Regions from separate parts of the Homo sapiens genome. Here region 2 is linked to region 1. A link means that fine-mapping ties the variant in region 1 to the plasma level of a protein whose gene starts in the linked region. Region 1 holds a variant in brackets. A gene starts in the other region. All regions are shown on their forward strands. Region 1 has its middle 23 kb from the start of LINC00423. Region 2 holds the start of FGF23 (fibroblast growth factor 23).

What was found. PIP is the chance, under the fine-mapping model, that this variant and not a neighbour inherited with it causes the effect. The UK Biobank Pharma Proteomics Project read protein levels with antibody pairs (Olink). The fine-mapping took linkage between variants from a reference panel, not from the people measured, so its PIPs are less certain.
Region 2: it holds the start of FGF23, and the variant in region 1 is fine-mapped to the plasma level of the FGF23 protein (UK Biobank, PIP above 0.99).

The regions. Positions count from the first base shown.
Region 1 is chr13:32,931,717-32,937,101 of GRCh38, forward strand. No RefSeq gene overlaps it. Among named protein-coding and RNA genes, the nearest start is that of LINC00423, 23 kb to the left of the region's middle. The variant A/T (reference allele first, on the strand shown) is at 3,225.
Region 2 is chr12:4,377,198-4,382,582 of GRCh38, forward strand. It overlaps FGF23 (fibroblast growth factor 23), which reads right to left and starts at 2,515. Exons shown (of 3, transcript NM_020638.3): 1 at 2,175-2,515. The coding sequence starts at 2,385.

The DNA of each region.
Region 1 (5,385 bases):
CCATGCTGTTTTGGTTACTGTAGCTTTGTAGTATAGTTTAAAGTCAGATAGCATGATGCCTCCAGCTTTGTTCTTTTTGCTTAGGATTGTCTTGGCTATACAGGCTCTTTTTTGGTTCCATATGAAATTTAAAGTAGTTTTTTTTTCTAATTCTGTGAAGAAAGTCAATGGTAGCTTGATGGGGATAGCATTGACTCTATAAATTACTTTGGTTAGTATGGCCATTTTCACAATATGGATTTTTCCTATCCGTGAGTATGGAATGTCTTTCCAGTTGTTTGTGTCCTCTCTTATTTCCTTATATGTGAACTTACTGCTAAAAGCTGAGGTATTTGCCAAGAGAAAATTTGAGAAGGTAATTAGAACAAGGGGAGCCATATGATAGGTCATCATGCATGCAGACTTACAAAAGGCAGAGGAAGTTCAGAGAGGTGGTGGCTATTGGAGAATGAGAGAGGGGAATGTTGTCACTGAAAGTATGACAGATCCGAGGTTCAACTCATGAGCTGTAGCTCATAAAAGACATGTGGTTTTTGAAAGATAAAGAGAACTGGGGGGTAGGAGGCAAGATTTGGAAACTTAGTTGAGGCACTTTTTAACTAAAAAATCTACAAAAATTGTGCTAATATGAAAAAAGCATATTTTACTGCAACTTTGACTATTTTATACCTAAGGGTAAGCTGAGTTAGAGAAAATCTGACAGTGAAAATGTTTAGAGATATTTATAGAAATAAATAGAATGAAATGAAATAAATATCCAAAAAAGAATGACTGGAACTGGAATGTTGCCATGACTAAGAAACTATTAACCCCACTTTATAGATGAGGAAAGGACTTTATGTTTTTGCATAATCTGTAAGTTTAGGGTGAATCAACACATTCTTGTTGTGTGATAAAATATTTTTTTTTTCTCCCTGTAAAACACTAGCAAGTAAAATGTGCTCTACCCTGGGTTTGTTATGTTTGTTCCTAAGGAAAGTCTTAAGTATTGCACTCGTTCTGCTACTCAAAAAGCACCTTTAATCACTTGGCAGATGTGTCAGTGGCAAAGGAAAACGTGAAATCCCGAGCAGCTCATTAGATGAGCTGTAAGATAGAATTGGTTACATTTAATTTCAAAGTTCTCTCACATTTCTCTGTAAAGGGCTTATTGCAATATAGAATTATGAACTGGGAGGTTGTCTTATCTTGGGAAAATTTAATATTTCATCTTGTCCTTTAATGTGCTTGCCAAGGTATTTAAAGAGCTGAGTAAAAATTAGGATGACTGGTATTAGAATGATGAAAAATGCTTTAAGCACTTTAAACCACTGGGTGTAAATTCAGGAAGATAAGGTTAAGAAGCCCGCGTATGCTGCCACATGGTAATGTCAAGGTTGAAATGGACATGGTGACATTCCACAGTGCAATGAATGACAACCGAGTGCAATTAGCTGCCTCGTGTAGCCAGGTCTCCCAAGACTCATCAGTGGCACTGATGGGGGTCATATCAACACCGATAGATCAGCTTGTGCCCTCACCTACTGACAGCACCTCCTGCCTTGGAAAGTTCCCTCAAGGCAGGTTTCAGTGTTCCTGGGGTTTCATGTGTGTATTCCTGAGTGATCACTCCCCTAATAGCTTTGCCATGTCTCCCTTCTCTTCTATGTTGAAGCCTGAGGAAGAGGTGTGGGGAAGGGTGAAAATGTCCCCATCTAGTTCATCTTATGCTCTGTGAGCCATGGGGAATGCAGGCTGCTAGTGCTCTCAATGATAGAGGCTGCAAGGAAGCCTCTCTCTTATTCTCCTTGCAACCTTTCTGTTCCTGGGATGCAGTCCATGAAGATAGACATGGGATAGTCCACAGGACAAACACTGCCAGACTCAAAATAGTCGTTCTCCTCTGGTTCTGAGGTCTGATTACCTGGCCAAGTGGATGCTTCTGTTGCCTTGGTTCCTTAAGGGGGATTTTTTACAGTTAGGCTTTCTGTTCTGTGAAGGCAGGGGCCATACTTGTCTTGTTTAACTCTATATCACTGCAGGGTGGGCAAACAATAAATACTTGTTATCGCTCTGCCTGGGACTCTCAAGTCTTTTGGAAAACAGGTTCTCCTGGGGCTGGCCCCACAAGTTTGCTGGAATTGCCTACGTTCCATCTTGGGCTCAAGCTGGAACCCTCACTGAATTTAAAATGTCTCATAATATATCTTCTGGTAGTTACTTTATGCTTAATTGTTTTATTCCTAGAGAGCTTCGAAATTGTGATAACCTTTATTGCCCAGGTTGTTATCATTTCAACTTATGTTTTTCCTGACCTCCACCGGTTAGTTTTCTGTTTAAATGTAGACTAACATGAGCATGTCAACATTTTAATCATGACGAAATAATTGCCCCTTGCCTTGACACTAACAAATCATATGACCTTGGGCTAGGGTTGCTAGAGAAAACACTGACCATCATTCAGTGTGAATTTCTGGTAAGTAATGAATAATTTTTGGTATAATTATGTCCCATGCATTTTGGTGGTAGAGCGTAGTGCCAAACTTATGCTAAAAATTCTTTTTGGTCTGAAATTCAAATTCAGTGAGTTTTCCTGTTTTTCTTTTTCTTTTTTATTCTGGACAAATCATTTTTATTTTCTGTGTTTCTGCTTGTTCATCTACAAAATGAAGTATCAACCTTGTGTACCTTGTTAATCTAAAGCTCAAATGACATTAAGTACATTAATATTTGTTCATAAGAATTTTCAATAAAATGTGAGATATTGTTAGTCATACAATAATGTTTATTGGGTATCTGTACTTGTTCTTGCTGATGTTAGCCACATTTACTCTAGTGAATTAAAAACAAGTAGAAGACAGGTTTTGCTTTTAGGAGCTTTGTAGATAGCTAAGAAGATAAGCTCTATGGCCTTTCAGACACTACAGAAGATAAGCAAACACAGTGTAAGGTAGTAAGAACTGTAGTGTAATGCTAGATGAGACTGGACAGGCAACACTCCAGGAGGATGCTGAGGATTGAGTCTTGCATTGGACCTGAAGGACTTAGTGGATCCTGGACTCCTTGCTGGGAATCCTCAGCAATCCTGTGTGTGTCCCTCTGTAGAATGACAGAAACAGGGAACATTATGAAGTCCAGAAACAAAGCTGAAAAACAATGAAGAAATTTGCCTCTGGAGCATAACTTCAGATCCATGGTCCAAGTTCCAATGTGAGTTAATTTGTTACCATTTTTAATTTATTTTC[A/T]ACTTGGAAAACAAGCTAACATAATGTTCTTTACAAATGAGAAAATCCTCCAGTCCCCCATATAATCCCTCTTTTTAGTACATATTTAAAATGGAAGATTATGCTGTTTTTTAATTCATTTATTAATTATTCATTTAAAAAATGGGTATTGAGCACCTGCTATGTACCAAGCAGGTGCTAGGTGTATAGGGTTTTTTTTTCATTATTATTTCAATACGTTTTTGGGGAACAGGTGGTGTCTGGTTACATGAATAAGTTCTTCAGTGGTGATTTCTGAGATTTTGGTGCACCCATCACCAAAGCAGAACCCAATGTGCAGTCTTTTATCTCTCACCCCCCTTCCACCTTTTCTTCCAAGTCCCCAGTCCATTTTATCACTCTTATGCCTTTACATCCTCATAGCTTAGCTCCCACTTACGAGTGAGAACATACGATGTTTGGTTTTCCATTCCTGAGTTACTTCACTTAGAATAATGGTCTCCAATTCCATCAAGGTTGCTGCAATGCCATTATTTCGTTCCTTTTTATGGCTGAGTAGTATTCCATAATATACATATACCACAGCTTATCCACTTGTTGATTGATGGGCATTTGGCTGGTTCCATATTTTTGCAATTGCAAATTGTGCTGCTATAAACATGCATGTTGATGTATCTTTTTCATATGATGACTTCAAATATAATCAACTATCAAATGATAGTTGTACTTTTAGTTATTTAGGGAATCTCTACACTGTTTTCCATAGTGGTTATACTAGTTTACATTCTCACCAGCAGTGTAAAAATGTTCTGTATAGGGTATTTAAAGATAAAAATGGGACAACTTCATTGAGGAGCTCACTTCACATGCTTCTATAAATGGATCTTGAGGTCTTGTGTAGAGATTCTAGTGGGACAGCTAAGCTTTGAGTGTGCCCTTGACCTGGGAACCCTCTTTCTTTCTCTGTGAGGAATTACTTTTCCCAGTGAACTTGATATTTGTGTAGGATCATATGATCTAACCAGCTGATCAACTCTGGTCTTTAAGAAAGTACAGTTCACTCCAGCCTGGGCAACAGACGGAGACCCCGTCTCTTAAAAAAAAAAAAAACGACTGATGTTATAGTCAGATAACCATCATTTTTGAAAAACAAAATGAAGTCTGATGCAGAAGACAGGCGTGTCATGAACATAGCTAATACAGTAGGATAAAGAGATTGTGCAGATGCGGTAGAAGCAGAGGATACGGTGCCTGTGAGGGATTTCAGAGTAGGTGGCCCTGGGCTTTAAAAGAGCAGGGAGCTCACTACGGTGTGAACGTGGGAAAACATTCCTGGCAGGATGAACATCTTGTGCCTTTGAATAGCATTTGTCGTATTCTGCCTCACGGCTTCCTGCCTTCTTTCCACAGTTCCACCACCAGATTGTGGGTGCTTCCAGGCCCAACAGTGCTGTGTCTTAATTGTTTTTATATCTTCATCATCTAGCATAGTGTCATTCAAGTTGCAGTTTTCACTCAATGGGATAAAATTGTGTTGATAACCTTTTTGAATAGAATTCATAGTGGCAAGGTGGCATATGCAGAGCATGCTCTACTTATTATTAACAGGCACTGTGAAGACAAAGACTTTGGTTCAGACATTGGCTGGCCGCTCACTGGATTGTACAGTCTTGAGCAAGATACCCTCCCTGAAACTTTTCCTTAGAAGAAAAATGAGAAAAATAATATCTACTTTGTATGTTGAAGACTGAATGAAATTGTGTGTAAAATGTGACTGGCATAATTGCTGGCATCTTATTCAATATTAATTCCCCATACTCACCCATAATATACTCATTAAGCTGACTTAGAATTTAGTTGTACATTTGTTGGAAGAAAAACTTAAGGACCTGAAATATAGCCCACTACAGAATAAAAATTCTGCTTGTGGGAAATATAACTATGTTTACAGCTTCTTACACATTGTTACGTACCCACATATTACAAATATATCATGTTTACACGATTCCCCTGTGGGGGATGCTTTGGTTGGCGGATGGTTATGCATGCATCCCAGATGTGTTCTGCTGAGGCTGCATCTGGAAATCAGGAGGATATTTGCAAGACATCATGAACATTTGAAATGTCAAATTTAACAAGTATTGAATATATATTTTGATGCAGAATCATTATAGATAAAGAA
Region 2 (5,385 bases), not on the chromosome of region 1:
AGGTTGACTCTTCACACTCACTCCCCACCGTAGCCGGCCTGTTCTGTTCTACCCTAATTCTTGTTCAGGAAGAAACGTCTTTAAGGAGTTCCTTTCAGCAACGGGATTCCAGGATTCGAGACAAGTTGTATAAACATTCTCTAGTTGGATGCAGCCCTTTCCATCTAAGAGAATCAAAATAATTTACCATAATCTACTATTCTGCATTTTAAATCACATATAGTCTTTTTTTTTTTTTTTTTTTTTTTTTTGAGATGGAGTCTCGCTCTGTCACCCAGGCTGGAGTGCAGTGGCGCAATCTCGGCTCACTGCAAGCTCTGCCTCCCGGGTTCACGCCATTCTCCTGCCTCAGCCTCCCAAGTAGCTGGGACTACAGGCGCCTGCCACCACGCCTGGCTAATTTTTTGTATTTTTAGTAGAGATGGGGTTTCACTGTGTTAGCCAGGATGGTCTCAATCTCCTGACCTCGTGATCTGCCTGCCTCGGCCTCCCAGAGTGCTGGGATTACAGGCGTGAGCCACCACACCTGGCCCACATATAGTCTTGAATTAGAGTAAGGGTGTCCCCTCCATGAGACATGCAAAATTGCATTTCCTGAAAGTCTGGTAGTGAGCTGGCTGACAAGGTAGGACGACAGACCATGAGGTCCTTGAAGGGTTGTGTCTTAGTTTTCAGCCACAGCGCTTGGTAGAATGCCAGGCACATGGTAGATCCTATTAAATATCCATTGAATAAAATGAACAACACTTCGGGTGCATCAAGTGTATCCAGATTTAATTGAAATTTTTGCCATGAGACTCAAACTTGGTTTCCAAGATGTTGACTCCTGAGTCTTACTATATTCTCTGGAGTTCTGGAACCTGTTTGGTATTCGGAGAGAACTTTCCTCTCTCCTTTTATCTCCTGTCAATATGCATTTAGTACTTGAAGAGGTTAAACTGTCAATTTCGCATGTTATATATCTTGCAACTTAATTTTGCATGTTGTATATCTTGCAACCAGGTTTAAGGACCTTTGGAGCCTAGAAGAATAAATGCCTCACACACAGCAAGGTCACAGCAAAAATAATTAATTTATTTATTACAACAATAAAGGGCAAATCATAATTCCTATGTTTTCTTTAGTTAGAGATTGTCTAACTAATTTTTCTTTCCTTTAATTTGAGCTATATTGGATCAGTTTGCATTTTTCTGTATGCTTTGAGGTGTTTTCTCACGTTTTCTTAAAATAGAAGATCCAGTCTTTTTCAATATCTATCCCTGCTTTCACCACATTACCCCTTATATAGGTGCACACAAAGGGACCCTCATTTGAATCATTGCTAATGGATTGATTATTGTGGATTGTGATCCAATTCTCCACAAACCTGATCTTTAAAAACATTCCAGTTGTCTCATGTTGCCAATAAGTTTCTAACTAGCTTGACTTGCTACTGACTGGACACCTTTCAGTTCCACAGAGAAGAATCACCAACTCATACTGGGTACCTGGGTACCTGGGTGTCTGAAACACCCATTAAACCTGTTGGATGGATGGATGGATGGATGGATGGATGGATGGATGGATGGATGGATGGATGCATGGACAAATGAATGGGTGGATGGGTTGTATACTTGGCCATTCTCACCAAGACAACATACATGGACAGTCTGTCTTTAATACATTTTTCCAAGAATTTTTATAAGGCCAGAGTTGGAAAGAGCCCCCAGATTTATCTATAACAATCTGGGTATGACCCAGGAATCTTTACAACCTCCCTAGTTAACCCAGTCCAAAGTCCATGAGCTGAAACTTAGTGTCTGTTGATCTGCCTGGCTTCTTTTTCTCTTAGACTCCTTGCCTTTCTTTCTGTACATTTTTTCAATCTTTTGACGGGGCAAAGGGAACATGGCTCCTACTGTGGGAAGGGTTTTAGTTGAAATAAAAATTATTCATATTGAGAAAAACCAGCAAATGCTAATTAGGAGAGTGACAGAATCTTCCCCTAAGTTTTAAATACACACGCACACACACACACACACAAACACACACACACACAAAGACAATAAGTGGTTCCTGGGCAGAAAGCTAGGAGGGTTGGATTAGCCCTCCAGTCTAGTCCCCAACCTCCCCAAGCCTCCTGTAGATGGACAACAAGGGTGCTCCCCTTCTTCCCAGCCTGAAGCCCTACTCACTGTAGATGGTCTGATGGGGTGCGCCATCCACATGGCCATTCTTGTGGATCTGCAGGTGGTAGCTGTTCCTGGCTGTGGCTGTGTACAGGTGGATCAGGCCACCCCAGCTGGAGCCGAGCAGTGGGGAGGCATTGGGATAGGCTCTGAGGACGCTCATGCTGCAGACGCTGCACAAGGCACAGACCCAGAGCCTGAGGCGGGCCCCCAACATCGTGCCCTGCTCTGAGTGGCTGGTGCTGAGATTGAAACCTGACACTCCTGTCGGGACTCTCCTGGCCCAGGCCTTACTGGCCTTTTCCTTCTCCCTTGCAAGTAGCTGGTGTGAGGATCCTAGACTGGATTCCCTCCTTTTTGCCGTCAGACTTTTAAAGGGTAGCAGTGTGACATCAAACAGGAAAAACTCCACTGTCCACATCCTCTGTGTTGTAATCAGCCCATTGAAAGAAAGTGCAAAGACCCCGGAGGCGCACGGAAGGCACGTCGGTTCCAGACACACACACCCCTCAATTTCAAGCCAACGCTCCAAAAAATGAATGACGTGTGGGCAAAAGTTATCTGCCACTCTGGGCTGTCTGTTGACCTGTCCCACTTCCATCAGGAAATGTGAAGGCAGCCAGCGGTTCCCAAAAAAAATCCAGCTTCAGTCAAGCAGTCAACCGACTCCTAGGCAATTAATCTCCTGTCGAGTTTACTTATTTTGGTTTTCTTTAAATTCCAATCAGCAAGTATGTATCCAGTGCTTAATCTGTGAGCAGGATTTGGTGGGTAGCTTGCAGGATATAGAGATACATGACACCATCAGGCAGATGGCATCCTCTAAGAACACCCACTTCATGAAAGATGGGAGCTAGGAGCAGGGGCACAAAAGCCAAAGTTGCCATTTTGGGAAGATTTTGAAATGGAAGAAAAAGAAGTAAGGCCTTGAGGTCAGTGAACATGCCAAGGTTCAGTTTCTCAGCTTCCTTAGTCTGGACTTCACTGAATATGCCAAGGTTCAATTTCTCAATTTCCCTAGTTTGGACTATCGAGGGCAACTAAACTAGTAGTCTCTCCAGTAGTAAGGAGACTCATTCAGAGACCTCATGGGGATTGGAACAGCTGCTGGCTGAGCACTGGGGATCCGAGCCTCAGGACAGGGTGTCCCCACATTTAGTGTCTGTACATGAGTGCTCAGCTTGGTGTTGGATGCCTGCCTGCAGATGCTGTTCACAGTGAGCCCTCTGGGAAGCTACACCTGATGTCGGGTGGAATAGTCCTGGCACATACAGTCTAAAGGGGAGCAAGCTACTGGAACACACACCCGAAAAAACACACAAGGAGTTTGCTATTCTTCCAGTTTCCCTGTACTGAGTATATGCCATGTACAGGCATCAAGCTAGACTCATGTACAGGTTGATATAGGAGACAGCAAGATGTGATTCCTATCTTGAGGAGCTCAAATCTAATGCAGGAGGCAGATAAAAATAAGTAACTATAATACAAAATGAGTGCAAGCTTACAGGTATAGACAGAAAGAGATGGCATTTGTTACCCTACATTTGTACAGTTTTTTTTTATAGTTTACAAAGCATTTTCACATCTATTAGCTTATTTGAACCTCACTGCCACTCTGTGAGATAGGCACTCCATGCATTATCAAGATTTTAATACTTTACATGAAGAAATGGAAATCTTAGTGTTTCCATGTCCAAAGGCACAAAGCAAATAAATGGTAGAGCCAGGACAAGGTCTTCTCCTTCCCTAGGCTGCTTCTCCAAAGAATCACAGCAAGAACTAACGCTCATGGAGAGCTTACTGTTCCACTTACTGCTCTAAGTGCTTTACTTGTAGTAACCCATTTCATCTTCAGAATAACTCTTTGAGGAGATGCTGTTATTTTCTTTATATAGATCAGGAAACTGATCTATGCACACAGTTTAAGTAACTTGCCTAGAGATAGAAAGGTAACATGTGGAAGAGGTTGGATTTGAATCCAGGTCTGGCCCCAAGACCTCCTAAGCACTTTTCAAGGTGTCCAAACCCATACAACATGTTAGAGCTAAAGCCATGAGAGCCAGGAGCTTGGTAAAAAAGTGCAGGTGGCAAAGCAGTCCTCTGTTATTCTCTAAAAACCCAGGCTTTTACCCAGGATGAATCTCTAGGACACATGGTGCTTGTCTCCCCAGGGTTGAGTGGAAGAAGTATGACATGAAATGTTTATATGTAAAACAGTCTTCTTTACTAATAGCCACAGAATGGATTATAAATATAATGCTACGTCTTAGCTAATTGAAGAAATAGCTAGCTTTCAGAATTGAGATGCAAATCACTTAGGAACATTTGCCCTGCATTTCTTATTCTGGTTGTGAAAGGTAAAGAGATGGGAAGTAATTATAAGGCAATCAGCAGCCATTGAGAACCTTCTCCATGTAAGAGATGAAAGGGAGGGTGTAGGACTACAAAGCAGGACTAACTCCTCTAGGGGCTCCCAGTGTAACTGAGCAGGGAACATCTTCGTTCAATACAAGGCACTGTGTGGGAGGAGCTTCATTACTAGGAGCAAATTAGTGAAGATGTGGTACTATATTTATAAACCATTCTGTGGCCATTACTAAAGAAGCCTGCTTTATACATAAACATTTAATGTCATACATCTTCCAAACAACCCTGGGGAGACAAGCACTATGTACCCTAGAGATTCACCCCGGGTAAAGACCTGGGTTTCCGAGAGAATCATGGAGGAGTGCTTTGCTGCCTGCACTTTTTTACCAAGCTCCTTCACAAAAAAGAAATGTTGACCAGGCGTGGTGGTTCATGCCTGTAATCCCAGCACTTTGGGGGGCCGAGGTGGGCAGATCACTTGAGGTCAGGAGTTCGAGACCAGCCTGGCCAACACGGTGAAACCCTGTCTAAACCCCGTTTAGTAGAAACCCTGTCTCTATTAAAAATACAAAAAAATTAGCTGGGCGTATTGTGTAATCTCAGCTACCTGGGAGGCTGAGGCAGGAGAATCACTTGAACTGGGAGGTGGAGATTGCAGTGAGTTGAGATTGCACCACTGCACTCCAGCCTGGATGACAGGGCGAGGATCTGTCACCAAAAAAAAAAAAAAAAAAGGTCATGGTGGGTAGATGCTGTGGTCAAGGAGGGCTTTGAGGGAAGGAGAGAACTGAGGGAGCTTTGTAGGATACACAGAGAAGGGTTTTCCCCAGCACCTGCCAAGCATGATGGA